Linked DNA regions of Homo sapiens. The protein of the gene in region 2 interacts with the protein of the main gene of each other region in a biochemical or structural test. Each region holds a gene or a part of one and is shown on either strand. Other genes may lie near its edges.

Region 1 (4,578 bases), on a different chromosome or scaffold from region 2:
GGAGGGTCTTATTCCTGCAGCCGGGACCTGGGCATCGGTGTGCTTTCATGTTCCTAACTGATTTTGAGGGGAGCCCAATCGATAACCTGTCTGCGAGTCATGCTCATCACACTGTAGTTTTCACACACGTCACACGGAGACCCTGTTCGTATGCACATTTGGGTGCTTGAGCAGGGTTGCGCCCAAGATTCTGTGGTTCTACGGAGCCCTGAGTGGTGCCCTGGGCAGCTTTCCTCTGGGGTTGGTCAACTTTGATCACTGCACCTAACGAGAAAGGGACCATGAAATCTAATCAGCAAATACAGACAAGCAAGGGGCCATTTCCCACAATCATTTCCACGGAAACACCACGTCGGATACGTAAGTCTGATTGCAGGACAGGGACTGTGCTTCAGAGATGCAGCTTTCGCAGCTGGACGAATGACCCGGAATCTCCCCAAATGCCATTTGTAAGCACACCAAATGAGGTTTATTTCAGGGCTTTCTGAATTTATTTCAGTTGAATACACACACTCCTGTGTTTGATTTCCTTTATTATCAATACGACTTATTTCCAAATGACTGACATGCCAGTGGGAAAATTTTCCATTTCGACTCATTGGAATTGGACATCGTGAAACAGGCAAGTCGGTCTGTCTGTTTCCGGCGTTATGTGGGTTCCAGCAAGAGCACAAGTCCCAGGGCGCCTGAGGTCCATTCAGAAACCAATGTAAAAACGGTGAGCCAGGGTAAGAAAGAAGAGCACCGTTCCTATCTTCTAAATGCATTCCAGTTTCCACTATTCAAGGTGGCGAGAATGATCCATGGATGTGCCACATGAGCAAAATTTCACCTTCTCGTGCCGCCCAACAACTGACGAATGAAACACACCCCAAGAGAAAATAGGAAACCGAGTCCCCTGCAATAACCTCACACTCAAACCTACACGTCAGTAGGTCATATTCAGAAATACACAGTGAATGTCATCTACCATGAACACAAACACACAGACAGTCTCTCCAGAGGTTCGGAAGACTCACGACCCCAAAACTTGATGTTTCCCATGTGTGGGCTCATCCTGAGATGCAGCCATCACTATCCAGTTGTCCCTGTTGTAGAGACAGAAACTTGGACTCCTCATTACTTTATGTAGGATTGACGGTGTTCGTGTTTGTGTGTGTGTGTGTGTTTGCGTGCGCGCTTGTGGGTGTATTTGTGCGTGTGTGTGTGTGCGTTCACCCCTACGTGTGGGTCGGCACTTCCACTGAGATCACTGGCACACAAGCAGAGCCCTCTTGCTGTGTTTGTTCTTCCCTTTGGATCTCCTGGTCCTCCCTTGCAGAGAAGCGAGGGTGCCAGTGTTCACGGACTCCTGATCTGTCCGGGTCGTCGAAGAGAGGTTTAGCAGGGAGCTTTGCTGTTCAGGATGATGGTTTTTCATCCCACACTTGTATTTCGATTGATGAATCACAAGTACGTTGGGAGGCAGGGTACCTTCGACTTTTCTGACGTTGAACTCAGGCTTCGTTTTGTTTTGCTCTTGGGGGAATTTCCAGTGGTCTAAGGTGCTTTCCTGAGTGGCTCTTTCCACCAAGCGCTCGTCCAACTCGGGTGCCTGGAGGCAGGGGTGGTCTCTCTTGAGCTCTCCTTGCGTTGCTCGCCTGTCTGTGTCTTCAGCGCCGAGGGCTCTTGGTTCCCTGCCTCTTGACACACTCTCACTGTGTCTTTCCCATTCACTCTTCTGGATGTAAAAGAGGACATAGGCCTGTTGACTCAGGACAGAAGTGATGCTACAGGCAGTGACCTTGGCATCATCCATTTTATACCACTGGCCTTCTTGAGCTTTGACATAAGAGAAGTAATGTCCGTCGTGACAACTCCACCCAGCGTGGACCAGCACAGCATAGAGGACATAGACAAGAGGTCCTGTGTTCTGCTGAGACATGTATGGCTGCATGTCAAGGCACTCAGGATATTGCACATTCTTGGCAAGTTTGTTGCCTGTGACATCGGAGAATCTCTTCAAGACAAGGATGAGGACCTTGGCAGAAGTGTGTAAAGTTAACGTCTTGGAGGCCGGCGCCCTCTGGAGACAAAGACCGCAATGATAGGCATTCTCTCCATTGAGTTCTTCGGGCTTCACCAACTGTTCCAAAGCTTGCTTGACACTCTGAGCTGCCTGGATATCCAGGGCGATGTCCAGGTAAGGGTCAAAAGTGTCTGAAATCCCGTGGCAGTGGAGACACTTGATTTGAGATCTCCAGCAGCCTCCAAATATTTGGTGGATGAGGGTGGTGTCCTTAGAGTGATGATCTACCTGCTTGTGGCCGGGAAGGCATGCCTTTTTCATGGCATCCACAGTGAACATGAGAAATTCATGGGCATCTTCCTGCTTGCCTCTATGGAAGCCAGCAGCCAATGCCTGTGAGGGCTGGATGACATGACCAGGACTGTGGAGGGCCCATGTGATGTGAGCTTGCATAGTACAGAGCATGCAGCACTTGGGACGCTGACATGTTTGAGAGTGCTCCCGGGACAGCATGTAGTTGGCAAGGGGCGGTGTGTATGTCAGGCACTGCAGGGAAGCGTTCTCGTAGCAGGTATTTCCCATATTCTGGAGCCCAGCCCCCACCGCAGCAGGTCTCCTGCTACTCAGAGGAAGCTTCTTCCTGGGAGCAAGCTGTCTTGCCACAGGAGCCAAATCATCACAGAGGTCGACACGGGCCTCAGATGAGAGTGGTGACTTCTCAGGGAGAGAAGTCCGCTGGATTTCAGCAAAAGCTGCATCTGGCCGAGAAGATGTGAGTTTTGAAAAGTGGTTGAACTGCCACTCACCTCCCAAGTAGAGTGAGTCGTCCTCCATGTCGCCCGCAACAAGGATCACAAGGTTTTTCTGCTGGGACTGCAGGTTGCAGCAAGACGCTATCTCTTCCAAGAGAGTCTTCAAATGACGAGCTCTCTGGCCGCATCAGCCCTTATATAACTCACCCCCACCAACCGCGAACACCCCACCCACCCATCAGGTGTGCGATAAACCAATCAAATATCAGCACTCAATTAAGGAATGAGTCACAGGGTGTGTCCCCTTGCATCGCTGGGAATTCAACAGACACAGCCCACATCATGACTTCTAGAACACCTGAATCAAATTACTCCTCAGGGTGATAGGCACATATAATATGAGTGTAACCGGGTTGGGACAGTGGCCACACAGTTGCCTTATTTTAGGTAAAAGAATGTCAGGGAAGAAATCTTTACCTATGAAACCGTGTGTGTATCTCTCTGTGTGTGTGTGTGTGTGTGTGTGTTTGTGTGTGTGTGTGTGTGCTTGTGCTGGGATGAACTTCCAAGTATGTACTTTTGGCAGCTACCGTCATCCTCTCATCGACGGAAGGACAAGAAGTCTGAAGTGCGCTTTCTGACCTGAGAATAGTCAATGAAGTATAGTATTTAGCACAGCGTATTTTCTTCCTTAATAATAAAGGAGATATCCGTGGCATCAAACAGACCTTCCAGGGATAACCTTTCCACGTTCAGCCTATTGACTCTCTATCCGAGTGAAATTACTGGCCAGTGGAGAACAAGACAAGTCTTTGCATGAAATGCTCTTGTGGAAGCTAGGCTGCCAAATAATAAAGCATCAAATGGTAGAAACATGCACTGAAGTTTGAAGAGTTACTCAGTGCACAAAGTAGGCTGTGAAAGACTTTGGGGAAATCATGCAATCACCGAGAGACTAATTGATGACATTCCCCAAATTTATGTGTGCCAGAAAAGAGAGATGGTCCTGACATTGTATAGTGAGTGGTTTCGGACGTGCGGCGGCAGTTTAAGAAAACTTGAAACAAAAAACTTGAGAAATCCAAAGGTATCCCAACTATAAGCTTTTGTTTATTAAAGAACTGATGAAAATAAAAACAACGTATCTCACAGCATGGGTGATACTATTTCCATACTTACGTGATAATGGATCAACATTTCATAGAGATGAAATAAAAAGTTCTAATTTTGACAAAAGCAAACAAGGAAAATTATACCGTAGAAAAGCCCGGGTGACGGGAGTGAGGCCCTGTCTGAAGAAGAAAACATCGGAGACGTTTAAAAGCAGTGAGTGAAACAGAGGGTAGCATAACCTTTTTAATACTGGCTCTTGTTTCACTGGGAAATGGCAAAAATAAACCGTGTATCTCCTGGATTCTCGCATCGGTTGTTCATGCTCTGAGATGTTCCCTCCATTTCCAGTTATGCATTGTATGGTGGAATTGCAGTTAGCACCTTTGATGCAAAAATTGTAATGCTGACGAAAGTGGACATGTTCCCTGAACTAAGAGGGACAGCATTTGGGTGTGTCTTCAGGCTCTCTGGCTTACCAGGAATGAAGATCCTGGCTCTAGGGATTTTCCCAAAATGTCTTAGACAGTAAGGAACAGGGCAGAATTGAGGCCCGGCGCCAAGGCCTCTGGGTGTAAAGAAACAGCCCTGGCTTCATGGCCCATGAAATTAGGATGATTTTAAGGATGGTGATGAAATGAGTGGGCTGTGACCTTTGGCCCTGTTTCTTTCCTTTGTCTTTTCATGGGCCAGGTGTGCTTCATCAGA
Region 2 (4,458 bases):
ATAAGTACCAAAATGAGTAAGTGGTATGAATACTGGAAGAATATGTAATGTTTAGTGATAATACCATTATCGATCTTGAAAATTCAAAGGAAAAGGTATGTGGAATATTCAAGTGCATCGGCCTTCAGAACGAGGAGTGCAACAGATTACTACAGCAAAATCAAAATCTTCACCTCACGAAAGCAATAACTAACTACAACAATTAATAGACAATATGCCATTTGCAATAGCAACAAAATTCATGAATTGCCTGAAAAGAAGTCTAATAAAAATGTATAAGGTCTTTATAGAGACAACTGTCGAAGTATACTGACATATTCAGGTAAAAAAAAGCTTGAAATACATAGAGGAGTATAACATATTCATTCATGGGGAGCACAACACTGTAAAAATGTAAACTCAGCTTAAATTATTTACAATTTAGTGCCTTACCTGTAGCCGCCGCCATTACAACAAATTTGGGCTGCTGTGCTCTGCTTCCCAAATCAAACCTGGAAAATTACAGAATGGAAACAGTAAATAAAAAACCAGTATCAGCAACAAAATCTACGCAACAAAACAGGGAAAGCCCAGGGTGAGACTCAAGGCTGTGTTGAGCTGGTACTTGTGTTTGACACTTGCAGTGTTGGTTGGAGGGGGTTAGCAGCAGGGATGTTGGGGAGGTTTGTAGCCGGCCTACACGGTAGATGACAGAATGGGTAGAATAAAAGTTTGAAATTTTCCACTTCACTTCTTTGCACAATCTGAGGCAGCCTCTGAAAACACGATGCCAAGAGCCCTAGGTAATAGCAGGACACCAGGAAAATTTGGTTGGTTAAGGCAGTATGACTCCAGAGTTCTGCTAATAACAACCTGAAACCACCATAGTGGCAGAGGAATTACATTTTTAAAAAAAAAAAATTCTTTCAACAGAACACAAAGACTGAAATAGGAGGTCACTACAACCGCGGGAGCTGCCGCCCCGCCCTGCAGGGAGCACCTGGCCTGGGACCCGCAGGCATTCTCTACAAGGGGTGCAGCTGTGCAAATGCTCACAGGTGACAGAAACAGAGCATCTCCTGCCCATCACTTCATCCAACAGCCAGAGGTGACGAAGACGACCCTCCTGAGTGAGGACTGAGGGTCCACACCGCCCCCCCACCCCACACACCATAGAGGGACCACAGAATCCAGCTCAGCCCCTCTTGTCAGCCCTGGTAAACGCAGGCAGTGATGTCACCCAGACCACACCCCTTCCCCCAATGCCACTTCAGGGGGACTCAGAGTCAGAGACTTGGTCTGAGGGGAGCAGAAGCAATCTGCAGAGGATGGCGGTCCAGGCTCAGCCAGGCATCAACTTCAGGACCCTGAGGGATGACCGAAGGCCCCGCCCACCCACCCCCAACTCCCCCGACCCCACCAGGATCTACAGCCTCAGGACCCCCGTCCCAATCCTTACCCCTTGCCCCATCACCATCTTCATGCTTACCTCCACCCCCATCCGATCCCCATCCAGGCAGAATCCAGTTCCACCCCTGCCCGGAACCCAGGGTAGTACCGTTGCCAGGATGTGACGCCACTGACTTGCGCATTGGAGGTCAGAAGACCGCGAGATTCTCGCCCTGAGCAACGAGCGACGGCCTGACGTCGGCGGAGGGAAGCCGGCCCAGGCTCGGTGAGGAGGCAAGGTAAGACGCTGAGGGAGGACTGAGGCGGGCCTCACCTCAGACAGAGGGCCTCAAATAATCCAGTGCTGCCTCTGCTGCCGGGCCTGGGCCACCCCGCAGGGGAAGACTTCCAGGCTGGGTCGCCACTACCTCACCCCGCCGACCCCCGCCGCTTTAGCCACGGGGAACTCTGGGGACAGAGCTTAATGTGGCCAGGGCAGGGCTGGTTAGAAGAGGTCAGGGCCCACGCTGTGGCAGGAATCAAGGTCAGGACCCCGAGAGGGAACTGAGGGCAGCCTAACCACCACCCTCACCACCATTCCCGTCCCCCAACACCAACCCCACCCCCATCCCCCATTCCCCATTCCCATCCCCACCCCCACCCCTATCCTGGCAGAATCCGGGCTTTGCCCCTGGTATCAAGTCACGGAAGCTCCGGGAATGGCGGCCAGGCACGTGAGTCCTGAGGTTCACATCTACGGCTAAGGGAGGGAAGGGGTTCGGTATCGCGAGTATGGCCGTTGGGAGGCAGCGAAAGGGCCCAGGCCCTCCTGGAAGACAGTGGAGTCCTGAGGGGACCCAGCATGCCAGGACAGGGGGCCCACTGTACCCCTGTCTCAAACCGAGGCACCTTTTCATTCGGCTACGGGAATCCTAGGGATGCAGACCCACTTCAGCAGGGGGTTGGGGCCCAGCCCTGCGAGGAGTCATGGGGAGGAAGAAGAGGGAGGACTGAGGGGACCTTGGAGTCCAGATCAGTGGCAACCTTGGGCTGGGGGATGCTGGGCACAGTGGCCAAATGTGCTCTGTGCTCATTGCGCCTTCAGGGTGACCAGAGAGTTGAGGGCTGTGGTCTGAAGAGTGGGACTTCAGGTCAGCAGAGGGAGGAATCCCAGGATCTGCAGGGCCCAAGGTGTACCCCCAAGGGGCCCCTATGTGGTGGACAGATGCAGTGGTCCTAGGATCTGCCAAGCATCCAGGTGAAGAGACTGAGGGAGGATTGAGGGTACCCCTGGGACAGAATGCGGACTGGGGGCCCCATAAAAATCTGCCCTGCTCCTGCTGTTACCTCAGAGAGCCTGGGCAGGGCTGTCAGCTGAGGTCCCTCCATTATCCTAGGATCACTGATGTCAGGGAAGGGGAAGCCTTGGTCTGAGGGGGCTGCACTCAGGGCAGTAGAGGGAGGCTCTCAGACCCTACTAGGAGTGGAGGTGAGGACCAAGCAGTCTCCTCACCCAGGGTACATGGACTTCAATAAATTTGGACATCTCTCGTTGTCCTTTCCGGGAGGACCTGGGAATGTATGGCCAGATGTGGGTCCCCTCATGTTTTTCTGTACCATATCAGGTATGTGAGTTCTTGACATGAGAGATTCTCAGGCCAGCAGAAGGGAGGGATTAGGCCCTATAAGGAGAAAGGTGAGGGCCCTGAGTGAGCACAGAGGGGATCCTCCACCCCAGTAGAGTGGGGACCTCACAGAGTCTGGCCAACCCTCCTGACAGTTCTGGGAATCCGTGGCTGCGTTTGCTGTCTGCACATTGGGGGCCCGTGGATTCCTCTCCCAGGAATCAGGAGCTCCAGGAACAAGGCAGTGAGGACTTGGTCTGAGGCAGTGTCCTCAGGTCACAGAGTAGAGGGGGCTCAGATAGTGCCAACGGTGAAGGTTTGCCTTGGATTCAAACCAAGGGCCCCACCTGCCCCAGAACACATGGACTCCAGAGCGCCTGGCCTCACCCTCAATACTTTCAGTCCTGCAGCCTCAGCATGCGCTGGCCGGATGTACCCTGAGGTGCCCTCTCACTTCCTCCTTCAGGTTCTGAGGGGACAGGCTGACCTGGAGGACCAGAGGCCCCCGGAGGAGCACTGAAGGAGAAGATCTGTAAGTAAGCCTTTGTTAGAGCCTCCAAGGTTCCATTCAGTACTCAGCTGAGGTCTCTCACATGCTCCCTCTCTCCCCAGGCCAGTGGGTCTCCATTGCCCAGCTCCTGCCCACACTCCCGCCTGTTGCCCTGACCAGAGTCATCATGCCTCTTGAGCAGAGGAGTCAGCACTGCAAGCCTGAAGAAGGCCTTGAGGCCCGAGGAGAGGCCCTGGGCCTGGTGGGTGCGCAGGCTCCTGCTACTGAGGAGCAGGAGGCTGCCTCCTCCTCTTCTACTCTAGTTGAAGTCACCCTGGGGGAGGTGCCTGCTGCCGAGTCACCAGATCCTCCCCAGAGTCCTCAGGGAGCCTCCAGCCTCCCCACTACCATGAACTACCCTCTCTGGAGCCAATCCTATGAGGACTCCAGCAACCAAGAAGAGGAGGGGCCAAGCACCTTCCCTGACCTGGAGTCCGAGTTCCAAGCAGCACTCAGTAGGAAGGTGGCCGAGTTGGTTCATTTTCTGCTCCTCAAGTATCGAGCCAGGGAGCCGGTCACAAAGGCAGAAATGCTGGGGAGTGTCGTCGGAAATTGGCAGTATTTCTTTCCTGTGATCTTCAGCAAAGCTTCCAGTTCCTTGCAGCTGGTCTTTGGCATCGAGCTGATGGAAGTGGACCCCATCGGCCACTTGTACATCTTTGCCACCTGCCTGGGCCTCTCCTACGATGGCCTGCTGGGTGACAATCAGATCATGCCCAAGGCAGGCCTCCTGATAATCGTCCTGGCCATAATCGCAAGAGAGGGCGACTGTGCCCCTGAGGAGAAAATCTGGGAGGAGCTGAGTGTGTTAGAGGTGTTTGAGGGGAGGGAAGACAGTATCTTGGGGGATCCCAAGAAGCTGCTCACCCAACATTTCGTGCAGGAAAACTACCTGGAGTACCGGCAGGTCCCCGG

Evidence for each region.
Region 1: the proteins of MAGEA3 (region 2) and USP17L2 form a complex in vitro, tested with the Homo sapiens proteins (one study listed by BioGRID).

Annotation. Positions count from the first base shown.
Region 1 is NC_000008.11:12,135,919-12,140,496, forward strand, and holds USP17L2 (ubiquitin carboxyl-terminal hydrolase 17), read right to left. Parts: upstream 2,932-4,578; 5' UTR 2,843-2,931; coding exon 1,250-2,842; 3' UTR 517-1,249; downstream 1-516. UniProt on the Homo sapiens protein: Deubiquitinating enzyme that removes conjugated ubiquitin from specific proteins to regulate different cellular processes.
Region 2 is NC_000023.11:152,697,163-152,701,620, forward strand, and holds the start of MAGEA3 (melanoma-associated antigen 3), read left to right. Parts: upstream 1-1,631; 5' UTR 1,632-1,667; exon of another isoform or gene 1,668-1,912; intron 1,913-2,043; exon of another isoform or gene 2,044-2,102; intron 2,103-2,143; exon of another isoform or gene 2,144-2,626; intron 2,627-3,395; exon of another isoform or gene 3,396-3,459; 5' UTR 3,460-3,525; intron 3,526-3,605; 5' UTR 3,606-3,670; coding exon 3,671-4,458. UniProt on the Homo sapiens protein: Activator of ubiquitin ligase activity of RING-type zinc finger-containing E3 ubiquitin-protein ligases that acts as a repressor of autophagy. May enhance ubiquitin ligase activity of TRIM28 and stimulate p53/TP53 ubiquitination by TRIM28.